Regions from separate parts of the Homo sapiens genome. Here region 2 is linked to region 1. The links come from fine-mapping of genetic effects on gene expression. Tissue or cell type: whole blood. Region 1 holds a variant in brackets; the other region holds the start of a gene. All regions are shown on one strand. Distances are between the middles of the regions.

The links. PIP is the estimated chance that this variant, and not a neighbour inherited with it, causes the effect.
Region 2: PICALM starts here. The variant in region 1 is fine-mapped to the expression of PICALM in whole blood (TOPMed, PIP 0.98).

Annotation. Positions count from the first base shown.
Region 1 is chr11:86,201,498-86,209,711 of GRCh38, forward strand. No RefSeq gene overlaps it. Among named protein-coding and RNA genes, the nearest start is that of LINC02695, 12 kb to the left of the region's middle. RefSeq lists enhancers at 713-1,213, 1,214-1,714. The variant A/T (reference allele first, on the strand shown) is at 4,600.
Region 2 is chr11:86,065,951-86,074,164 of GRCh38, forward strand. PICALM (phosphatidylinositol binding clathrin assembly protein) reads right to left here and starts at 3,134. Exons shown (of 20, transcript NM_007166.4): 1 at 2,701-3,134. The coding sequence starts at 2,830. LOC124902731 (a long non-coding RNA gene) reads left to right here and starts at 3,974. Exons shown (of 2, transcript XR_007062823.1): 1 at 3,974-5,747; 2 at 6,368-6,551. RefSeq lists enhancers at 1,780-2,482, 2,483-3,184, 2,924-4,123 and silencers at 2,749-2,798, 2,869-2,918, 3,059-3,228, 3,379-3,648.

The DNA of each region.
Region 1 (8,214 bases):
GAGGAGTTTATGACCATGGTCCAGTTATGAGTTAAATACATTTGGACTAGGGTAGCTGAGATGTGAGTAGAGAAAGTGGTAAATCTGAGAGGCATTTTGAAGCAGAGATTGAATAAAGAGGAATAAGGAGGAAGTGATCTAAGTTAACTAGCAAAGCTTGAGGGGAGATTTTGTTAACAGGAAGGGGAAAGGAATTTTTTTGGGGGAGGTTTGGTCTTCTAGGGAGTTTCATTGTTTCATTCTTAGACATGAACATGTGTGAACAGTTGTACTGGGAGTCTTTTAAAATATGTACATTTTTGTAGGCAGTTAGAAATGTGAATATTATTGTCAAAACAGATAGATGAGTTTCTAAGTGTTCACACTGAGGCAGTAGTTGAAACTGTAAAAGCAGATGCTGTGTATGAAGAAGAATATTACAAAGAGAAAGACATACAATAATTAGAAGAAAGAAATTATTACACATTTTATAATGCTTAACTATTTAGCTTTACATTTTATTTCTAACTTAAATCCAACTCTTATAGTACTCCTTTGACCTGTCCTACAAATTTATCTCTCTCAATCTTTTTTTTTGCATAAATATTAGCAATCTTTTCCTTTTCTTTGTGGGTAACTGTATTAGTAAAGACAGGTTAGCTTATACTAACACTCCAAATCTCAGTGGCTGCAAGGTATTTCTCATACACTCTACATATCTGTCACTTCCCCTCACATTTTATTGGCCAATGCAAGCCACACAGCCATATAAATCCTCAAAGGAGGTGGCAGTTTGATCCCCCAGTGTACATTAATGGGAAGAGTGGGACTATTTGTGAAAAGTTCTAATGATAACCATAGTAACACACTTTTTTCCTTAGACCGTTATCTACAACCATGCCTCCTCCACCTTTTTATTTGTACCGTCACTAAAACGTTTTCAGTATGAACGTTTTATAAGCAGCAGTATGGTGGCATAATTCTGTGGCATAATTCCAAGTTGTTTCTGCTTCTTTGCTCTTTTCTCCTTATTTTGATGCTGTCTTCCTTTGGTTCCATGACAGGCTCTCTTCTTTTCTTCCTTTCCCTATTCTTAGAACTGAAGAGACTCAAGGAAATGCTACAACGGAATCAAAACAATTTTATTTTATTTTTTGAGACGGAGTCTCCCTCTGTCGCCCAGGCTGGAGTGCAGTGGCGCGATCTCCGCTCACCGCAAGCTCCGCCTCCCGGGTTCACACCATTCTCCTGCCTCAGCCTCCGCAGGCGCCCGCCACCACGCCCTGCTAATTTTTTGTATTTTTTTTAGTAGAGACGGGGTTTCACCGTGTTAGCCAGGATGGTCTCCATCTCCTGACCTCGTGATCCGCCCGCCTTGGCCGGCCTTCCAAAGTGCTGGGATTACAGGCGTGAGCCACTGCGCCCGGCCTCAAAGCAATTTTTACCCCATCTCTCCTCCCTGTGGTTGGTTCCACTTCTCTTCCTTCTTTAGCAAGAGTCATTTCTTCCCCTTTGAGTCCTGCTGCACTTCCTTCTTTTTCTCACTTCCATGTCACTCAGAGGTTAAGGCAGTTGTAGAGCAAAACAACCAGCTGACAAGCAATAGATGTTATGCAATTCACCATTTATTCTGTGCAACATTAATTAGCTGGTTGTCCTGATTTTCACAGCCTGTGCCCACCCCATACATTGTTGACTTCATTACTTCTAATAAGAATTAATCTTTTTTTCCATTTGAATCCCACAGAATGTGGTTTGAGTCTCTAATCTGATTATTACAGTCTGCCCTTCCTCAGGGTTATTTTTGTATATGCTCCCTCACTAAATCACAACATCCTTATAAACAGTGATGTGCACATAATAGATACTCAATAATTGTTAACTCACTGATGAGTCCTAAATTTGACTAACTTGCCATTGGTTTTGGTAACATTTGGGTAAATCTTGATTCAGCAATTGGCACTCAGACTTTTGCTCATATCTAGAAAAAAAGGAACATATATAAATAGAAAAAAATATTATCTGTTGAAGACCTTTCTATTTTTCACCCTCCATATTAAGATTGTAGTACTATTGTTTGTTTACAATTCATACCACACCTGCTTTCTAAGAGGCTTTAAGTAGACGTATTAGGCAATATATTCACTTATTCATTAATTCATTCATTCACTGATTTACTCAATAGTCACTTAATGAGTCCCTATCATAGGCTAGGGATAGGATAGAAAGTCTAATAAAAGGTTGGGCATGGTGGCTCATGCCTGCAGTACCAGCACTTTGGGAGGCTAAGGCTGGCAGATGGCCTGAGTTCAGGAATGCTAGACCAGACTGGGCAACATGGCGAAACCCTGTCTCTACTGAAAATACAAAGTGTGGTGGCACCCACCTTTAATCCCAGCTACTTGGGAGGCTGAGGCATAAGAATCACTTGAACCCGGGAGGCAGAGATTGCAGTGAGCCAAGCTGGCACCACTGCACTCCAGCCTGGGTGACAGAGTGACACTCTGTTTAAAAAAAAAAAAAAAGTCGAATAAAATGTGGTAACCTCTTTCAAAATCTGGGAGCAGGGGGGAGACACATAAGTAAAGCAATTGCTACTGTGCCATAAACACTGTAGCCTAAAGGAGAAGCATCTAAGTGAGATTGGAACTTCTTGGGAGATGCGACCCCTGAAACTAGCTTTGAGGTTAAGAGGAGGAGATAGCTGGAGAATTGGGGATGGTGGAGCAAGGGTTTTTATGAGAAGGAAATGTGCCATGTGCAAAAACTGAGATGGGAAATAAAATTACATGCTCCAGAAACTGCTCAAGAAATTCAATAGGACAGATCCATAACATCCTAGTTGAGGAATGGCAGGAGACAAGCTAGTGAAATGAACATGTGTCAGATCTAAAAGCATCTTGTGTCTTAAAGTAAGGAATAGTAACATCAAAGCTATGGAACACATCGAAACTCCTCTGCCAGGCAAGTGGGGTCTCAGATGCCATTCTGGGATTATACTTACAGAAGCTGGGTGTGGTTATGGGTAGGGTAAGACACTCCCCATAATATGCATGGAATAGAACTGAGAGGATCTGAAAGTGAGGGCCCAGGGGACAAAGCTAGGATTAATTCAAAGCTGACAGGAAACCAGAAATAATTAATATGAAACATGACCAGAAAGTACTAAGACATAGCAAAGAGGAAAAAATGCAGGGTCAGAGGCACAGCTTAGCATCTTTTTGTTGTTGCTGTTGTTCAGACAGAGTGTTCAGTCTGCTGCCCAGGCTGAAGTGCAGTGGCGCAATTTCAGCTCACTGCAACCTTCACCTCTTGGGTTCAAGAAATTCTCATGCCTCAGCCTCCCGAGTAGCTGGGACTACAGGTGTGCACCACCACACCCAGCTAATTTTTTGTATTTTTAGTAGAGATGAGGTTTCACCATGTTGGCCAGGCTGGTCTCAAACTCTTAGCCCCAGGTGATCTACCTTCTTCAGCATCCCAAAGTGCTGGGATTACAGGCATGAACCACCACACCCAGCCACAGCTCAGTATTTTAAAGCCACCTTTTCCCTTTTTGAGCTCCTTGAGCCAGTGTCTGGATGGTAAAGGAATATTTTGAACTGATTTGGACCTAAGGCTATCCAAGTATTTTAAGCAGAAGAGTGATAGGGCCTGTTGTTGCTCTTTTAACTCTAGACACACAGCATCTTGCTATGTCCTGTGAGCTCTACCCCATATGTGTCTGGCCCAGAGAAAGTCCTCAATAAATATTTAGTGAATGGCATGGACTTGCTACTAATTGTTAAGCACAGGAATGTTTTGTTTAGTCTATATTAGGTGAGTATAATGCTACAAGAAAACTGATTTCATAGAAACCTACAAGAATTTACTCTTCTCTTTTATTTATTGTAATAAATGTCCACTAAAATTATGTTATTTACCAGCCATCCAAATGTAAAATTAATCTTTTTTTTTAACAGTATCTCAGACATACACATTTAAAGCATACACATTAAGGAATAAGACAATAGAAAAGACACCCAAAGAAGTAGAACCAACTAAAATATAAAAACAAAATAACAAACAGTTTACCAATAAAGTGGTATACGTTTGCGTAACATCAATACAGAAACAGTAGCTAAGATGATTGCAAAAATGGAGTTAAGCAATACAAAGCTGCTTACAAGACTTGTACGTGTAAATTCTTGATCGTAATTGAACTAATGGTGGTGAAAATAAAGTTAAAATTTCCTGCAGATGTCAGGCGTGGTGGCTCACACCTGTAATCCCAGCGCTTTGGGAGCCTGAAGCAGGAGGATCGTTTGATCCCAGGAATTCTAGGCCGCAGTGAGCTATGATTGCGCCACTGCATTCCAGCCTGGGTGACAGAGAGAGAGAGAGACAGTGTCTCTAAATAATAAATACATACATAAAATATTAAAAAGAAATAAAAGAGATTTCCCATGGGAAACTTCATCATTTGCCTGCCATTCTAAAGTTGGAGTGGGGGGCAGAATAGGTAAGCTTTGGGTCCAGTTTATCATGAGAGAATGCATTAAGCAAACAACAGTTGAACAGAGTGTGGCCAGCTGGTACAATATGTCACAATGGTGCCATCATGAGACAAGGCCACGTAAT[A/T]TAAAAAGCGAGGAAGGAAATACAAACTCCAAGTAAAGACCAAATTGCTAAGGGCTGCAGGGCCTCCCAGACTACTCTTCATTCACAGCATAGGCTTCAAATGTGCCTTGTGAATGTGCATATGTAACATCTGAATGGATGTGCATTCTAAGTTAAAGTCAACACACATTTAAATCTGTACAGTTTTAGTTATTGATATGAACTTTCAGCCTCAGATTTTAGAATGATTTCTTCATGCTTAACAACATCACCAGATAACAAGAAGCAGCAAGCAAAAATGGCCTTTATGGTATTATAAAAAGTAAATATCTTTGTCTTATCTTTGTCCCAGATTCCTGGCACACAGCTCCCGAAACATTTTGGAATCCTGGGAATGATAAGGGTAAGACTATATTTTGCATGCTAATTAGATGTCTGGTGGCTGACGGCCCCTAGCAAGCTTCAGCATAGGGGCTGGAAGCCAAAAAGGCCAAGTCTTGATTAGAAACTTGGAACTTTCATCCCCATTCTGCTGGGGAGGGGAGAGGGGGTAGAGATTGAGTTCAATCACCAATGGTCAATGATTTAATGAATCATGTCTACTTAATGAAACTTGCATAAAAACCCATAAGCTGGCCGGGCGCGGTGGCTCACGCCTGTAATCCCAGCACTTTGGGAGGCCGAGGTGGGCGGATCACGAGGTCAGGAGATCGAAACCATCCTGGCTAACACGGTGAAACCCCGTCTCTACTAAAAATACAAAAAATTAGCCGGGCGTGGTGGCAGGCGCCTGTAGTCCCAGCTACTCAGAAGGCTGAGCCAGGAGGATGGCGTGAACCCGGGAGGCGGAGCTTGCAGTGAGCCGAGATTGCGCCACTGCACTCCAACCTGGGCGACAGAGCGACACTCTTTCTCAAAAAAAAAAAAAAAAAAAAAAAACCCATAAGCAATGGAGTTCAGAGAGCTTCCCAGTTGGTTAACACATCCGCATTCTGGGAGGGTAGCACACCCCAGCTCCATGGTACAGAAGCTGTTATGCTTGGGACTTTCCTGGGCCTCGTCCCTATACCACTCATTGGCTCTTCATTTGTATCCTTTAAAATACAAATATAAGTAAAGTGCCTTCCTGAGTTCTGTTGGCCAGTCTAGGAAATCATTGAAACTTAGGAGGGGGTTATGGGGATATTTGATTTATGGCTGGTCATATAGAAGTACAGGTGATCTAAAATAGCATGGTACTGGCATTAAAAACAGACATATAGACCAATAGAACAGAATGGAGAGTCCAGAAATAATTCCACACATTTATGGTCAATTGATCTTTAACAAAGGTGCCAGGAGCACACAATGAGAGAAGGGCAGACTATTCAATAAATGGTATTGGGACAATTGGATATCCACATGCAAAAGAATAAAACTGGACCCTTGTCTCACACCATATGCAAAAAAAAAAATCAACTCAAAATGGATTCAAGACTTAAACATAAGACCTGAAACTGTAGAACTACTAGAAGAAAACATAGGAAAAAAGCTTCTTGACGTTGTCCTCAACAATAACTTTTTTTGGTTATGACCCTAAAAGCACAGGCAGCAAAAACAAAAATAGACAAACGAGAGTGCATCAAACTAAAAAGCTTCCTATAGAAAAAGAAACAATCTATGGAATACAAGCTATGTGCAGGAGAAAAAAGACAAGAAACAACCTATAGAATGAAAGAAAGTATTTGCAAGCCATATATCTGATAAGAGGTTAGTATTCAAACTATGCAGGGAATTCAAACAACTCAATAACAAGAAAACACATAACCAGATTTAAAAATGGGCAAAGGGTCGGGTGCAGTGGTTCACGTCTGTAATCCCAGCACTTTAGGAGGCCGAGGTGGGCAAATCACCTGAGATTGGGAGTTCAAGACCACCCTGACCAACATGGAGAAACCCTGTCTCTACTAAAAATACAAAATTAGCTGGGTGTGGTGGTGCACGCCTGTAATCCCAGCTACTCAGGAAGCTGAGGCAGGAGAATCTCTTGAACCCGGGAAGCAGAGGTTGCGGTGAGCTGAGATTGTGCCATTGTACTCAGCCTGGGCAACAAGAGTGAAACTCCGTCTCAAAAAAAAAAAAAAAAAAAAAAAGAGAAAAGAAAGGCAAAAGACCTGAATAGACATTTCTCAAAAGAAGACGTATGAATGGCCAACAGGTATATGAAAAAATGGTCAACATCACTAATTATCAGGAAAATGTAAGTTAAATTAAAACCACAATGAGATATCACCTCACACATGTTCGAATAGCTATCAAAAAGACAAATGATAATACATGTTGGTGAGGATGTGGACAAAGGGGAACCCTTGTACAATGTGGGTCAGAATGTAAATTGGTACAGCCACTATGGAAAATCACGTAGAGGTTCCTCAGAAATTAATAATAGGACTACCTTATGACCCAGCAATCCCACTTCTGGATATATATCCAAAAGAAAGGAAATCAATATATTGAAGAGATATCTGCATCCCCACAATCATTGCAGCATTATTCACAACAGCCAAGACAGAAAATCAATCTAAGTGTCCATCAATGGATGAATGGATAAAGAAAATGTTTTACACACACACACACAATGTAATATTGTTCAGCCTTTCAAAATAAGGAAGTTCTGTCATTTATGACAATCTGGGTAAACCTAAAGGATATTATGCTAAGTGAGATAAGCCAGGCACTGAAAGACTACAGATACTACAGATCTCACTTATATGTGGAACTCATAGAAGCAGAGAGTAAAATGGTGGTTAACAGGGCCTGGGGGTAAGGAGAAAGGAATGGGGAGATACTGTCAAAGGGTAGAGGGTTTCTAACTGTTAGGATGAATAAATTCTGGAGATCTATTGTACAGCATAGTGATGATAGTTAAGAATACTGTATTGTATTCTGGAAAATTGCTAAGACAATAGATTTTAAATGTTCTCACTACAAAAAAGTTGTATGTGCAGTGATGGATATGTTAATTACTTTGATTTAATTATTTCACCACATATACATATATCAAAACCTCACATTGTACACTGTAAATATATATCATTTTTATTTGCCAACTATAGCTTAATAAAGCTAGGGGAGGGTGGAGAAGTACAGGTGATCTGATATTGCACGTAGCATCTGAAATGAGGGCAGCCTGTGGCTCTGAGCCCTTAAACCTGAAGAGTCAGAGGCCAACTCTGAGTAGTTAGTGCTAATTGAATTGGATTGTTGGACACCCAGTCAATTTCCAGAGACATGGAGAATTGGTTGGTGTGAGAAAACAACCCAAAAAGTTGGTGTCAGAAGTGCTGTAAGTAAAAACAGCTTACTTCTGGTAAAATGTACCCTACTAATTTTACTATTCTATTTATCTGGTAAAAAAAAATTAGTAGAATCTCATAGGTTCTGTGGGGTGTGTGTGTGTGTGTGTGTGTGTGTGTGTGTTCATGAGAAGTTTGGTTTGGTAGGTGCAGAAGTTTGGCTTTAGTGGATGTAGAAGTAAGTCTAGGGTTTTTTCCCTGAAATATTCCAGGTCTAGGTTTAGTCCTTGCTTTGTTCTTTCTCCTCGATATTCCATATTCCTTACTTCCTTCAAGTAAACTTCAAGTAAACTCACTGTTT
Region 2 (8,214 bases), 140 kb before region 1:
TTTGTTAAATGCTGCCATTTTAAAATGAAATCATTTTCATTAGATTCATATAAATAAGCATCAGTTGCTAGGGGCATTAAAAGGTGCACATAAACTAAGCTTTCACTATAAAGAAAAATTCCTAAAAGACAAAAAATTACTTGAAATGACAGGTTTCTGTATTAAAGCCTAAAGTTCATGATGTCAACACCATGAACTGTCCGTAGAAGACTTTTTAATTTTCTCAAAGCATGTTAGTGTGTGCAAGGAAGGTATTTGTTTAGTAAACCACTCACTGGTCAGACTTTACCTAAGATAAAGGTATTTTATTAGTGAGAACTGATTACAGGACATTTTAATCAACAATGTAGGGAAAATAGTATCCCTGTATTTTAAAACCTCATTGAAAAGAAACAGAAGCACATTAACGACACATATATTTTTAAATCAAATACTACCAGGTATATTCAAGTTCCAAAAACGTGGGAGCTTGTAAACACAGAAGTGGTAGAGAAAAAGAACGACAAATGCAAGATTATCCTCCAAACCTAATCCCAGTTACCATCTATCTGCAGTAGTGGCTATAACAAGAGAAATAGCTAATAACATTTATGAAACAACATGCAAATAGCACTCTTCTAACCCTACCTATTTTCTCCTCTTTTTGACAATGCTTTAAAAGAACCACTGCTACATTTGAAATAAGACACAAACCTTTACAAAAAAAACTTTTAAAAGCCTTATCGATTCTTATTTTGAATGAGGAAAGAGGAAAATAGTTCACACAGTCACAACTAGTTTCTTCATACTCCCATACAAAAAAAAAAAACAAAAAAAAACCAAAAGCAACTAACAAAAGAATTAACACAGTGTCAGGACAAACTGTAAGATTTGGTAGGGCAAACCAAGTAGTATTTGAAGAGCCGTAAATAGCAGAAACGTCTACTACACGTATCAGATAATCAAAAAATCACATATGGCTTTACGATGCATTTTAAAAAGTTTTCTGTTCATAAGAGTGTCACCATTTAAACATATTCTCCATTCTCTAAGACAAGCAAGGACTGAGAGTTTAAAAGCAGCCTGCATGCATATCTGAAAGAATCAAGCACTAATGCTTTTTTATTTAAAACTTTTTTCCACAGTGGAGGAACAATCACAAAGAATAATAGGCTTCTGTGTAGCAAAAACTTGTTCTAACAGCATTCATGAGCACAGTAACTTGGAAGAATCTACATTTCGTACATTTTTTTTAAAGTGCAAACTTTACGGCCAAAGTCCAAATGAGAAATCAAAACAGGCTTCCAGACAGTGAATTATCTTTCAGGGCATGCTCACTCTTGCTTCAAACAGTAAAACAAAGTAACTTTCATGTATGATGAAAGTCAGTCAGACTAATGTGTCCAGTCATTTAAAAAGGGAACTTACTTATCGTGACTATTGCCCTATTTTTCCCTGAAAAGTTTCAGGTCTAAGCTCCATTGGCTTGAGTGATCCAATGAGCTTTGTACCCTGGGGTAAAAGAGCGCAAAGAAAAAGGAGGGTATTACAGGTGACTTCCAGGTTAGAAAAAAGTTACGAGGAGTTAGCTCTACTAATTGTATCTACGTTAGCGAATGGACGAATACTATGTCGTGTAAGAGAAGCTAAAGCTAGTTCCTCAAAAGGTAACTGGCATAATTAAAACATCCAAACTCAAGCATCATCAAACATCATTTTGCCAATTTTTTTAAGGGATGTATGTTATTTGTAAGTAAATTTATTAATCCATTTGGAATTCCAACAGTCTACGCTTAACACTCAAGCTTCTGAATTCAAGCCGCCAGAATTAACAGTTCCAGGAACTGATAAGAGTATCAGCAAAATGCCTTTTTCCATATCCCCATGTGAAAAGCTGGGGGGCAGAGCTGACAGTCACAAACTCACCCCAGTCAAAAGTATGGACAACACAACGATTAAATTCCACCAGAGGCAAATAAAAATCCCAACTTTCCAGAAAGCTTTCCCTACACCAAATTGAATCCTTTTACTTTCACTCCCACAAAGAAGGTAATCTGAAATAAAAGTCGGGTAACTGGGTATGGTATTTAAAATGAGTCGAAGAAACTACACTGAAGCTACTATAGAGGCGATGAAAAGGTAACCCAAAAGCAGGAGGGAAGGTGGAACAGAAAGCCAGGAAGGGATGGGCGAAGCAGCTAGTGGAGCAAAGGAAGTGGGGGATCCCTTCCAGGGAGGCAGCCCGGAGGGATAACAAGGATCTGGATGCAAGGAACCAGGCGTTTACTGAAACCCGAAGGAGGCTGATGAAGAAACAATGGGGCTTGGAGACGCTCAGACGAGGGCGACGAGGCGGCACCGGACGGGTGGGAAGGAAGAGCAGAAGGCTGCAGTGGAGACGGGTAGGGGGTGAGAAGCCAGGTGGGGAAGCAAGTTGGTTGGGTATGATGGGGTGTGGTAGCGCACCGGGCAGGGAGACGAGGGTCCCCTAGGAATAGGGAGGGGAGTGGCTTGTCAGATTTTGAGACGGGGAGCGGAGGCCGTGAAGGCAGGTGTGATGGAAGCAAAAGAACACAGCTCAACGGGCACAGGACCGGCCGTGCCAGAGAAGACGCAGGGAGGGAAGAGGCAGTAGAAGGGTGAAAGACAAGAGAGAGAGAGAAGGACGCGCGCGGGTCGCGCGGGCGCCGGGGAGCGGGGGCCGCGGTCGGCTTCACTCACAGTCCAGGTGCTTTTTCTTGGGCCCCATGATCTCGTGGGTCGTGGCCTTGCATACTGTCTTGGATACGGCAGAGCCGGTGACACTGTGCTGGGCGGCAGTGATTCGGTCCGTCAGGCTCTGGCCGGACATCTCTGCAGCTCCTCCACCACCCCACCCGCTCAGCAGCCGGCGGGGACTGGGACCCCCAAGAGCCGGAGGGTCCCCACCCCCCACCGCACCCCCTACCCCCACCGGCTCCTTCCCCGCCTGCCGGCCTGGGGCGCGGTTCGGGGCCGCGCGCTGCCACCAGTCCAGAGAGAACCGGCTCGTGTCACCCGCGGAGTCGGACAAGATGTCGGGCACTCCCTTGCCCCCGCCTCAGTTCAGCCCACCCCTTCCCGGGTCAGCTGGAGCCGGGCAGGGTAAGAGGAACAGGCAGCTGCAGGAAAATGGCGGCGCCAGGCTCCTCCTCGGAGCTTTCCGGGCTGCCCCGGGTCACGTGACTCGGACACCGCCCCTCCTCCCTTCTCCCGCCCCTTTCCCCTTCCCTTTCCTCTTCGACGCCCGCCCTCCCTCGCTCAGCGAGGGAAGAGCTGGGCGGCGCCCGCGCGTTACGTGATGGAACTCGCCAGGCGGGCGCAACAGGAGGCCCGCCCGAGGGGAGTGCACAGCCGGCGCATCACGTGACTCTCCCTGCCAACAGGTCGCCTGAGGCTCGGCCCGCGGGGTCACAGACGCCGGGCGGGGCGGGGCGGGAGAGGAATGGCGAGGGCGGTGTGCTGGCGGGGGTGGGGCGGGGCGGCAGGCTTCTCCCCTTATCCCCCCACCTCAAGTGTGTCCTCGTGTCTGTGGTTGAAACCAACAGCTTGACAAAGGAGGTGCAGCTGCCTTCACAGCTTCCCCTGAAGTGGGGGGTATTAGGCCTCTGGCTCCCCGAGCTTTCCCAGCAGAGTCAAGAATGTATTTCAAGACGCCTCCCAAAGCCGCCCTCCTGGCTTAAAGGAGAAGGTTCCAAACGGCCTATTTTCTGAACCTTCCAGCAGGCCTCTCTCTACCATGGAACTATTGAAGCTCTCCTTATTTACTTACCCCAGAAAGGTTTTTTCCCCCCTTTCCTTGAGAGGCTTGGAAATGTCACCTGGTTTTGTTTATCTCTACTCCGAAAACCCGACACGTTGCTGCCATTCTAAATTTAGATACTAGCTGGCCGGTATTCATTCTCTAGGGTGTGGAATAGGACAGGAAACACATAGCTTCACTGGAATTTGAAAAGGGAAGTAGTAGGATGATGTCAACAGCGATTAGCTTGACCCTACATGGCTGACTGCTGTGGTGATTAAAGGTCCAGACCATAGAAGGAAGTGAGAGGGGCGGTAAATGGAGAAGTCCCATTCAAACAGTCCAGACATCACTGCCTGCCATCTCCCCTGGTTTAGTCTTTCTTACCTTTGGCCTCTTTTCTCTTATTGGGTGAGCCAGATTTCCATGGAAAGACGTTGACACTGCCCTGTGGACATTTTAAAAGAAGTATTACATCCTGAAATACTATTCAATGAGACCCAGACCATACATTAACAAAGCCTTTTATATGTTATTAGAGCCTCTACATTCAACCCAGGGTTAGGGATAAGTTGAAAAATATGTGAGTGCTAAGTTACCATGATAGTCACATGTAATCTTGCTAGTTTCAAATGAAATGCTAACATTCTCAGAAAGTCTGTGTACACCATCTGCCAGCCAAATCCAAAATACTGTGCTTCAATCTGGTGACTCTCAAAGGATGCAAAGCTGATAGATATTTAACATTTTATGTATCATATCAGGAATTTTGTGGTCTCCCATTTTCCCCACGCCCCCTCACCCCTCTTTTTTCCCCACTATGGCTGGTGAAATTCTGCAGCAACATGCTCTTGCCAAGAACACACAAGTTTTTAATCCCAGCAGGCTTCATCTTTGTCAAGCCAGCCTCCAATTTCACAAAACTATAATGAATTCCTTCAGTGTACTGCAATCCATCTGTGGTTTGGTGCCCAGTTTGCTGCCCCACGTCCACTGGGCAGTGGAATTACCAAATTCTCAAGACATGTTATCAGCCATCATTGCTACTGGTCTATGGGTTCCACTGTATAAGTTACTGATTGGCCTGAGCCTCTGCATTGGTAAACCCCAATCTGAGGTCAACACTAACATGGTCTAGCTATCAACAGCTGAATATTTTATCCTTAGGGAAAATGCCAGTCATTCCTAAGTACATAACAGGAAAGTATTACACTATTACTTTTACCAAAGAGGTTCTTTCAGACCACTTTTGTGACAATAATTGTTGACATGTTTACCCTATTAACAAACAAGCTGCTGTTAGAAATATTTTATTTTTTTCCAAGTATACATAGTAGAATTTCTAACTATGTAAATAATCAGTAATCATTGAAGAGGTTTATGTGTGGTTGTGAACTGAAATATATGGAGAAATTTAAAAGAAGATGGGGAATTGTTCTAAGGGTAGACATTACTGACCTATGTTGTCTTATATGCTTAAGTTTTCTGTGTCAGTTTCCTTGGTCTATTCAGGAAATATCTCTACCTGAAGTTCCACAGATGCCAACTCACCATGGCCAATACTGAACTTCTCTTGCCCTTGCCCAGCATCCTACATCTTTAATCCATACTGTTCCCTATATCCGTTAATGGCCTCACCACATGTCCAGAAGCTCCGCTCAGAAAGCTGTGATTCTGAGTTCTCCTTCTGTCTTATTTCCCTCATCAAGCCTAATCTACTTTTATCTCTCAAACACATCCCATCTCTAACCCCACTTCTGTTGCCTTAGTTCCAGCCTTTATGATCTCTGTTATACTAGACTGTTTTAGTAACTTCTTAGCTGATTCTCTGTCTTTTATACCCTGACTCTCCAATTCAGATCCTTCTGAAACCAAAATGTGATTGTCTTTTCTTTGCATTAAAATCTTCCAGTAACTCCCCCATCGCTACCCTAAAGGATGAAATTAAGAACTCTCAACCTGGCATACATGGTTCTTCATGATCTGGCCTCATTTTAGAAGTTTCTAAGTATGTAAATAATCAGTGACCATTGTAGAGGTTTATGTGTAATTGTGAAATGAAATACATGGACCAATTTAGAAGAAGATGGGGAATTAGAACTAAGAATAGGCATTACTGACCTACTTTATCTTATATACTTAAGTTTTCTCTGTGTCAGTTTCTTCAGTCTATTTAAGAAATATCTTACCTGAAGTTCCACATGTGCCAACTCACATGGCCACCTAAACCTGTTGAGCCTTGTCTCTTCCCATTCCTCTAAATTCCCCTACCTACCTACTACTTGTTGAGCCTCATCTCTTCTGATTCCTTTAAATGCACTCCAGACAGTATCACACTACTTGACATACTTGGATGTCATGCTGTTTCACATACCAATAAGCAGTTACTGATTTCCTTTTGTTACTCATATATCCTTCTGTTCTCTAATTATTATTGTGATTGACTAATTGCACTAACATGGGGGTGCAGAGATACATCCATGCTAGTATTATGGTTGATGCAAGGTAGATACACAGTAGATGGTGATTGAACGAATGAATGAGAACGCTTTGAAATCACGCATTCGGACACACCATCACTCCAAACCTCTCATTTGATAAAATCTGCCCACTTTTTCACACATTTAGCATGTCTACTGGGCATGGAGGCATAAGCCTATAGTCATAGCTACTTGGGAGGCTGAAGCAGGAGGATCCCTTGAGCCCAGGAGTTTAAGCCTGCAGTGAATTATGATCCTACCACCGCATTCCAGCCTGGATGACAGAGCAAGACACTGTTTCTAAAAATAAATAAAGCATGTCCATCCCATAATTATCTGGTTGGAGCATCATCCTTATTCAGTACCTTGTTAATTAATTTACTCTTTCAAAAAATATGTGTTGAACTGTGTGTCAGGCATAAAGGTTCTAAGTGCCAAACACTATTTACAGTGAACCCATCAGTCCTTTGGGAACTAGTTAGTTCTCAACTTGAAGGCCTCTTTGCTTTGATTGTAAAGGAGCAGACCAAAAACAGAAGGAAAAAACTTGAATAACACATTTCCTAGGTATTTCCTAGGCTCTTCCAACTAAAAGGTATGTTGTAGAGAGGCAGGGAGTGTTCGGAGAAGGAGCAGGTTTTTTTTATTGCCTCCTATGTGCTAAAAACACTACATTTTAAAAATGTAATGCTCATAACAATAATTTCAAAAAGTATCATGTCCAAGTATCGTGCCCATCCAATACAAGAAAACAGACAAGTCTTGGAAATTTTTTTTTTTTTTTTTTTGAGGCAGTCTTGCTCTCTTGCCCAGGCTAAAGTGCAGTGGCATGATCTCGGCTCACTGCAAGCTCCACCTCCTGGGTTCACGCCATTCTCCTGCCTCAGCCTCCTGAGTAGCTGGGACTACAGGCGCCTGCCACCACGCCTGGCTAATTTTTTGTACTTTTAGTAGAGACGGGGTTTCACTGTGTTAGCCAGGATGGTCTCGATCTCCTGTCCTTGTGATGCGCCCACCTCAGCCTCCCAAAGTGCTGGGATTACAGGCGTGAGCCATCGTGCCCGGCCAAGTCTTAGAAATTGAGTAACTTTCCAAAATCCCACAGATACTAAGTGGCAGAAGCAAGATTTAAAAAATAATTATCCTTCCAATACTCTGCCCAGACCCTTTAGCCAGTACTTGAAGCAACTGCCAATATAGACTAAATTTATTCAACAGATAGTTCTTGCCTTCCTGCCATGTGCCAGGCTTTTCTAGACGCTATGATAAAATAATGTGCAAGACAAACAGGGCCTCTGTTCTTAGAGATCTTAGTGTCTAAGTCTTAACAAAGGAGAAAATAGGTAAAAGTATGCTGCACCTGAGGAACCTTAAGTCATCGTCAATGACTTAAGAAAGTGGCAGAGAAAAGGAATATGGAAGAGAGAATTGACCAGAATTTTTACTTTTATTATAACACTTTGTTATCTAAATTATAATCTTTTGATATTAAGCTAACTAAACTGATATGAACACATGGCAAACCCTTCCCCCCTCACCTTTCTGTGTTTACACTTCCTGATGCTGCCAAATCAGTTAGAGATCATAACTTCACATAACCTTAAAAAGGTAAGGACTTTTCTTCATAGCTAAGTTCCCTTGCTAGAACCTCTAAACAAATAAAGTCATGTGCCGCGTGACATTTCAGTCAACAACACACCACAGATACAGTGGTGGTCCTATAAATTATAATACCATATTTTTACTGTATCTGTTCTATGTTTAGATATATGTTTAGCTACACAAATACCATTTTGTTACAGTTGCTTATAGTATTCAGTACAGTAATGTGTGGCACAGGTTTGTAGGTTAGGAGTAACAGGCTATAATATATAATCCTGGTGTGTAGTGGGCTATACCATCTAGGCTTGTGTAAGTGCACTCTGTGATATTCTGAAACCGACAAAATTGCCTAATGACACGTTTCTCAGCACTTACCCCATTGATATGTGATGT